Linked DNA regions of Homo sapiens. The protein of the gene in region 1 interacts with the protein of each later gene in a pairwise test. Each region holds a gene or a part of one and is shown on either strand. Other genes may lie near its edges.

Region 1 (4,179 bases):
TCCCAGAAATTCCAGCAAAGTCAGACCTAGACCTCACTCCTCGGCCGAGAAAATTCCATGAAGCGCTGTGCTATGAGAAGACCCGAGGCCCCTCCCAGAGACCAAGGTGGGGGGAAGAAGCCGACAGGCCCAGCCTGGCCAGAGCTGGGGTTTACAGGGCGCTGGGGGACCACACAGACCCTGTTCCTCCCCGGGCCAGCCAAGCACTCTGAGGCTGGCGGGCGTCAGCCAGCCTGACCGAGGCCCCGGCAGGACTCCACCCTGTCAGTCTGGCCCTGAAGCTGGGGCTGCTGAGTGCCGTGTGGGCAGCAGCTCGGTGTGGGAAGAGGAGCCCGCATTGGACTGAGTCTTGCTGAAAACACCACCTCTCGGGGTCCCTGCCAAGCAAAGCTGTCAGCCCCTCAGCACTCAAGGTGGCTAAGCAGGTCCCTCGTGCACCAAAAACAGGGGCGGCCGGGGCCTTGGGAGCTTTTTCAGGGAACCCGGGGAAGGCCCGGTTCTCTCGAGGGCGCCTGCCCCCCTCCACCATCATGCACCCTTCTCAGCCAGAAACCCCACAGCTGCCTCCCATACAGGGACCCTCAGATATGCGGGGGGCCTGGAGCCCACCTGTGTGGTCGCCATGGTGGTGCCCATCTCCAAGCCCTGCTTCAGCCTTGTACACGGCACCGCCGCCAGGGTGGGGTCCCAGCTCCGCGCCCGAGTCGGAGTCGCTGTGGCCGGCTTTGGCGCTCTTCCTGCGCCGTGGCTGGTACTTGTAGTCGGGGTGGTCCTTCTTGTGCTGCACGCGAAGGCGCTCTGCCTCCTCCACGAAGGGCCGCTTCTCGCTCTCGCTCAGCAAGCTGCAGCACAGGGCAGAGGCAGGGATGGCCAGGGCGCCCACTGTGCCCTCGGCGCAGGCACACACCACAGGGGGAACCGGCAGCAGAGGCCGGGGCCAGGAGGCTCTGACCAGGGAAACCCGCCTGCCGTGCGCTCCGGAGCCTCCCGTGGCACCAGGCAGTACACTCCTCTGGGAGAACCGGCCGGCGCCTGTTTGGGAAGGTTGGTATGCTTACGACAGCCAAAGAAGAACAAGCCCCACGCCTCCCATCTTCCTCCTTCTATTTCCCCCTATTCCGGGCCTGCTGTTCCCTCCCTCTGGGGCTTTCTAAGGGAGGCGGGGGAGGCGGGCAGGACCCAGCCGGCGGTGGACAAAAGCGAGGCTTCCCGGGAACGGTGCCGGCCTTCGGCGGGCAGCTGGGCTGCTGTCCCTCCATTCCCAGACACCCAGAAGCCCTGGCAGGGCCCAGGCGCCCGTCCTCACTGAGCCACAGGACACACTCCTTGGGACTCTTCCCGAGGCTCACCTCCAACCGCCTGTGCGGCAGGACTTGGGGGAGCAGGGGCCTGCCGTCCACAGCGCCCCGTGGCTGCGCCCTAGATCCAGACAGAAGGCAGGAGGTGCAAATACGCAAGCTCCAAGCTCCCTTCTTCCAGGTGAGGAGCAGGATACGGGAACCAGAGCCCCAAACCAAGAGAACCATTTGAAACCCAACCAGAGGACACTCGGTGGGGGCGGCCTGTCCTGAGCAACAAGTTCTTCACTCTGCAGTCCTAATTTCTGGAAAACTGACCGGCCCCACCACGCCAAGGCGTGCACACGGCGCACCCCGTCATCTCCACTCCTGCCCTCCCTGCTTCGGACCGAGGGTGTCCAGGAGAGGGAGAAACTGCGGGGAGGGTACTCGCAGGCAAACCTGCTGCCCACCCATCCGCCTGCCGCACTCCCTCCCCATGGGTGGTCCAGGAGCTAGAGGAGCTGAGCCCTTTCTAAGGAGGGAGCACCTCCAGAGAGCCGCATGCAACTTGCTGTCGTGCCGGGCGTGCCTCCCGGGGCTGGGGCCACTCGCAACGGCTGGAGGGCACGTCGGGGTGCCAGCCATGGCCCTCCGCAGGGTGTTCCCCGCCAGGAGAACTGGCTCCAGAGCGCACCCGCCACGAGGGTGCACACCCCAGGCGCTGCCCTCCGCGGATCCCGACTCCCATAGCTGGCGCCGGACCCCGGCTGGCCAGAGGATGTTTTTCCACTGGGACCCGCCCTGACACCCGCCCGGGGTGCAGAGCCCGGAGCCTGCGTGTGGCCACCACCTCCGCGAGCTCTGCGCCCTCCAGGCCCCCGCTCGCAGTCCGAGACCAGGGGCGGCCAAGGTCCCGAACCCCGCCCCCGGGGCGCCGGCACTCACCGCCACAGCTTGCCCAGCGTCTTGCTGAGCTCGGCGTTGTGCAGGTGCGGGTACTGGTCGGCCAGCTTGCGGCGCGCCGCCTGCGCCCACACCATGAATGCGTTCATGGGCCGCTTCACATGCGGCTTGGCTTTGAGCGCGCCGCCGCCGCCGCCGCGCACCGGCATGGGCACCAGACTCCAGTCGTAGCCCTTGAGCACCTGCGACACGGCGTCGCGGATGCAGGCCGGGAAGCGCTCGTCCGCCGCCTCCGCCGGGTCGCCCCGGGCGCCCCCCACCGCGACCCCCGCGCGGCCCAGGCCCTCGGAGCCGGCGGGAGACGGCGGCGCGTCCGAGTCCGAGTCCTCCACGTGCGACATGGAGCTGGCGGTGCCGGACGGGCTGCAGGGCGGCTGGGAGCGGGCCTCGCTCATGTCCAGCATCGGGGCCGCGCGCGGAGGGGCGCGCACAGGAGACGCGCACCGGGGCCGGCGCCCGGGGCTGCCCTGCGGTCGCTCCGGGACCCGAGGTCGCCGCGCGGTGGCCCCGACCCTCGCCCCTGCCGCCGCCGCCGCCGCCGCCGAGGCTCGGGTCCCGCTGCGGGACCCGCAACAAGTTTCTTTAAGCGGCGGCCCCGCGGCCCCGCCCCGCGCCCGGCTACCCATTGGCGGAGCGCGCCCCGATCCCCCGGAGGCGGAGCCCGGCCGCCCCCGCCCCCCCACCCATAAAGAAAGCTCCGCGGCTCTCGCCGCGCCCCCGCCTGCCCCGCCCGGCGCCGCACCACGTGGGCCAGGCGCCCCACGCCTGGAGCTCCCCTCTCTGGAGCCCCGGGAAAGGAAGCGGGGCAGGGAGGCCGGGTGGGAGCAGGGGGGTCTCCGGCGCTTCCTCTCCTCTGCGGGCGCCGCGCGGCTCCTGAGAGTCCGCCCCCCGTCCTGACGCTCAGCTAGGAAGCGGGTCCTCGGGCCCCTCCCCCGACACACACACACACACACACACACACACACACACACACACACACTCTCTCTCTCTCTCTCTCTCTCTCTCTCTCTCTCTCTCTCTCTCACACACACACACACACACACAGCCCGTCTCGCGCCTGAGGTCTCGCCCGCAGGCCGGTGGCGCGGGGTCAGCTGCTGCCTGCGGTCCAGGACAGGGTCGGTTCCGCCGCGCAGCGCCCAGGCCCAGCTCGTCCAGAGTCTGCGGACAGCGCACGTCCAGGTAACGCGCTTCAAGGGGCCGCGGCTCGGAGCTGGGGGACCCCGGGCCGCCCTGCCCATACGAGTGCGAGCGTGGAGAGCGCGGGCGGGGGCGCGGTCCCGGGGGCCGGCCAGCTGGAGGGGGCGGGAGCGCTGGGCGGGGCCTGCGCTGACCCCGGCGCTGAGTCCCTGGGGCCGCCGGGCGGATGGCGTGGCCGGACGCGGGGGCCCCGGGCCTTCCGGGCGTGACCTAGGGCTCGGGGGCGGGGAGGCCCCTCCGGCGGGGCGGCCCTGGGTGGTCCGGCAGAGGCGGAGGCCGCTCCGAGCCTGTGAGCCCTGGGCGCCTGCGGAGGCGGGGAGAGGGCGGGGTGTGCCGCCCTGGTGGGGACCGCGGGGTCGGAGAGGGGACATTGCCCCCCCCGAGGCGAACGTCCAACCGCGGGTCCGGGTCCCCGCCCAAGGCCGCCCCGCGAGGTGGCCTCGGCCCGGCCGTCCCCGAGGGTGGCTCGGATCCTTTCAACCAGCGCGCTGGAGGCGAAGGGGCTGCGCCATTCCGGGTCAGGCAGCCAACGCGGGACACGCGCGTCTCCGAGCTTGCGGCCCGCGAAACCCGGGTGACCTACCGCGCCGGTGCCCTCAAAGCCCCCACGCCCGGGCCGGTGGCCGCTGCAGCCACTGAGCCACGCGGTCTCCCCGGCCCGGTCGGCAGAAGGAGCTGGTCCGTTACTAGAAAAGTCCAGATGCAAAGTCGGGGGTCGTGCTGCCGCTTCCTGCCA
Region 2 (3,500 bases), on another chromosome or scaffold:
CAGCAGGCTCTACCATCTAGGTTTCTGTAAGTACACTCTATGATCACACAATAACAAAATCACCTAACGACACATTTCTCAGAACACATCGCATCATTAGGTGACAACTGTAAAAAGCAATTGTCAGTGGTTATATGTGTATGTGTAATTATGTGAGTATATTTATCAATAAACTATATAAAATAAGTACTTACACAAGCAATTGCCTGGACTACTCCAATAACTTCTAACTGGTCTCCCCAGTTTGACTCCCCCCACCCCAATCCTTCCATTCACCATACTCCATCCAATGCATTCTCTTTAAAATGCAAATCAAACTGATATTCAATGTCAAAAGGCTTCAATGGCTTCTTCAGTTTACTAAGTGTGTTATACATGTAATTCTCCCTAAACCTCTATGAGGTAAGCACTCTTATTGGGATTATCACCAACACTGATGAGTAAACTGACATAATACAGGTGTTAACCTGTATAAGATCACACAGCTGGTAAGAGCACAGAGTGCTGCATTGGAGTGCATGTTCTTTACCACCATACTATGCAATTTGAAATACAACTAATAAAAAATATAGCTTTAGGCCAGGCGCGGTGGCTCACGCCTGTAATCCCAGCACTTTGGGAAGCCAAGGCAGGCAGATCATCTGAGGTCAGGAGATCAAGACCAGCCTGGCCAACATGACGAAACCCAGTCTCTACTAAAAATACAAAAGTTAGGTGGGCGTGGTGGTGGGAGCCTATAATCCCAGCTACTCAGGAGGCTGAGGCAGGAGAATTGCTTGAAACCAGGAGGTGGAGGTTGTGGTGAGCTGAGATTGCGCCACTGCATTCCAGCTTGGGTGACAGAGCAAGATTCCATCTCAAATAAAACAAACAAACAAACAAACAAACAAAACCAAAAAACCAACCAGCTTTATATCACTATGAGTTATACTTTAAAGGTAAAAGTTATGGTGGCTTCATGGAATCTAGAATATTCTTGGCTACAGCACTGAAAACACTGTCGCTGTGCATAACCTCATTTTGGCTGCTGTGAGAAACAGAATAATAGCCCCACAAAGATGTCCACATCCTACTCCCCAGAACCTATAAATATCTTACTTTACATGGTAAATAGGAATTGCAGTTGTAGATGGATGAAAGTTGCTAACCAGCTGACTTTGAAATGGATAAATTATCCAGAGTTACTCAGGTAAGCCCAAGGTAATGACAAGGGTCCTGATGAGTGGAAGAAGGAAGCAGAAGAGAGAGAACAAGAGAGGTGGCAGCCTGGTGTCGCAGGGCCGTGAGTGGGGACAGGTGGCAGCCTGGCAGGACAGGGCCGTGAGTGGGGCGCCTCCAGAAGCTGGAAAAGCCATGGAAACAGATTCTGCCCTAGAACCTCCAGAAGGAATGCTTCATGCTGATACCTTGATTTTAGGCCAGTGAGACCTGTTTCAGACTTCTGACCTCTAGAAGTTTAAGACAATCAATTTGTATTGTTTTGTTTTTGGTCATGTGTTTCACAGAAATAGAAAAGTAATACAGTTGGGTTATTTTTTCTGAGTTCTAGCCTTGTTAACAGTAACACCGTCCAAGAAAACAATCCCTGGTTTTAAGTTTTATTTTGCTGCTTTTGCCAAAGGAGGCACCTGACCCAGGTTCTGATTCCCCTTTTCCATCTTCACCACCATCTTCCTCAAAACATCAGTCTAGCAAGAGGGGTATACTGGAGTATTGACTCAGCAGTGTTACTACTATATTGCTATGGGATGAAAAAATATTATTTTAAGAATGGCCTTTATAGCTTCCTGGTGGTCTGACTTCAATAAAGCTAGCAGCTCTTACCTCTATATTCCAATACATCTTCTCTATGAGGAAGGCCCACAGGAGGAAACCAATGCAATGGAAACCATGGGTGGTGAACATCCGTAAGCTCCTGTGGGCTCCTCTCATTAAACTGCTCATGTGGGAGGATAAATGAGTGTTTTCAGTCATAGGGAACTCACTGTGCTCAGGCTGAAGTTTTTGTTTTTGACTTCATTCTTTCTAATATAATTTCTTTCATAGTCTTGAAATGGTTGTTAAATCCACCTACAAGCCCATTTTAGCGTTTCTGTTCATCAGATAATTGAGACTGTGCCAGCACGGAACCACTTCTCTCCAGCAAATTGATTATGGCAGTTGCTTCTTAACAATAGATACAGAGGGCAGAATTTTCCTAGTACCGGTTCCCTGGAGTGCTGTTTTGGGTCAGTTCTGGCAAAAAGGCAGAACCTTGTGATTTTACAAAAGATTCAGACCTCTCTCCCCTACCACAATCTTTATCAGTTGATGAGAGATTAGACTCAGGCTAAGCGCCTGGATCAGGTTCCAGTCCAGATCTGAGGACCAGCTGCTACTGGTTAGGTGGAATCAGGAACTGATTCATGATCAGCTCCTTGGCTCTGAGAGACCCCAAAAGGCATGACAACACCCCACCAAACACGGAATACTCATTCCTATTATTTTTTGACATATCAGCTTAAATGATGCCTCAGAGAAATCTAACACTCCACCTACTTAACATGAAGTTAGAGCTTCATGATTTATATTGCAATCAGTTCAATCTATACACTTCTTTTACCTACCCTACCTCATCCCCATTCCATCTGCTGTGGTTTATGTCCCCCCACATTCATATGTTGAAATCTAATCACCAATGTGATGGTATTAGGAGTTGAAGGCTTTGGACCGTGATCTGGTCATGACAACAGTGCGCTTACAAAGAGACCTCAGAGCTGCCTTGCTTCTTCCGCCATGGGAGGTCACCCTGAGAAGGCTCCATCTATGAACCAGGAAGTGGGCCCTTGCCTGACACTGAATTTGCTGGTATCTTGATTGTGAACTTCTCAGCCTCCAGAGCTGTGAGAAATAAACGTTGTTTATAAGCTACTCCGTTTATGGTATTTTGTTACAGCAGCCTGAATGGACTAAGGCACCATAGAATCAACAGGCATATATTTATACCTACTATTAACCAGGAACTTTGCTCAGCACTGGACATATAGTGGTGAGCAAACATCAAGAAATTCCTTTCCTAATGGAGTGGGAAAGAAAAATGTAATTCAACTAAACACACACAAAAATATCCATATATCAACAGGGATACTGACATCATCGTTTAAATAACAAGAACAACAACAAAAAAGCAATCCTCCAGACTACTAAGAAAGATATAAAGAATGCTGATAAACAGCAGGATAAAAAGGAAAGAAGGGAGTAAGCATGATATTATAAATGATAGGAGTGGCCAAAAGAATGGCACAGTTACATCTGGGAAGAATATTAAAAAGATGAATATGTAATAACAGCATAAGAAATCCACTAAGTCTTTAATAAATAAAATAGTATTGGATTATAACCCAAAGTATAAAACAAATATTTATGAGCCCATACTGATAGAAAAATAAATGATTAAATAAATAAATGAAGGGAAGGGAGAGACCCATCTCCCATGCAGAAGAGCTCCAAATAATTTATGA

The links. Proteins that work in one complex are often made in the same cells at the same time.
Region 2: the proteins of SOX8 (region 1) and JAM2 interact in a two-hybrid assay, tested with the Homo sapiens proteins (one large-scale study listed by BioGRID and IntAct).

Annotation. Positions count from the first base shown.
Region 1 is NC_000016.10:980,391-984,569, reverse strand, and holds the start of SOX8 (transcription factor SOX-8), read right to left. Parts: upstream 2,801-4,179; 5' UTR 2,648-2,800; coding exon 2,226-2,647; intron 843-2,225; coding exon 610-842; intron 1-609. UniProt on the Homo sapiens protein: Transcription factor that may play a role in central nervous system, limb and facial development. May be involved in male sex determination. Binds the consensus motif 5'-[AT][AT]CAA[AT]G-3'.
Region 2 is NC_000021.9:25,642,258-25,645,757, reverse strand, and holds part of JAM2 (junctional adhesion molecule B isoform 1 precursor), read right to left. Parts: intron 2,911-3,500; exon of another isoform or gene 1-2,910. UniProt on the Homo sapiens protein: Junctional adhesion protein that mediates heterotypic cell-cell interactions with its cognate receptor JAM3 to regulate different cellular processes. Plays a role in homing and mobilization of hematopoietic stem and progenitor cells within the bone marrow.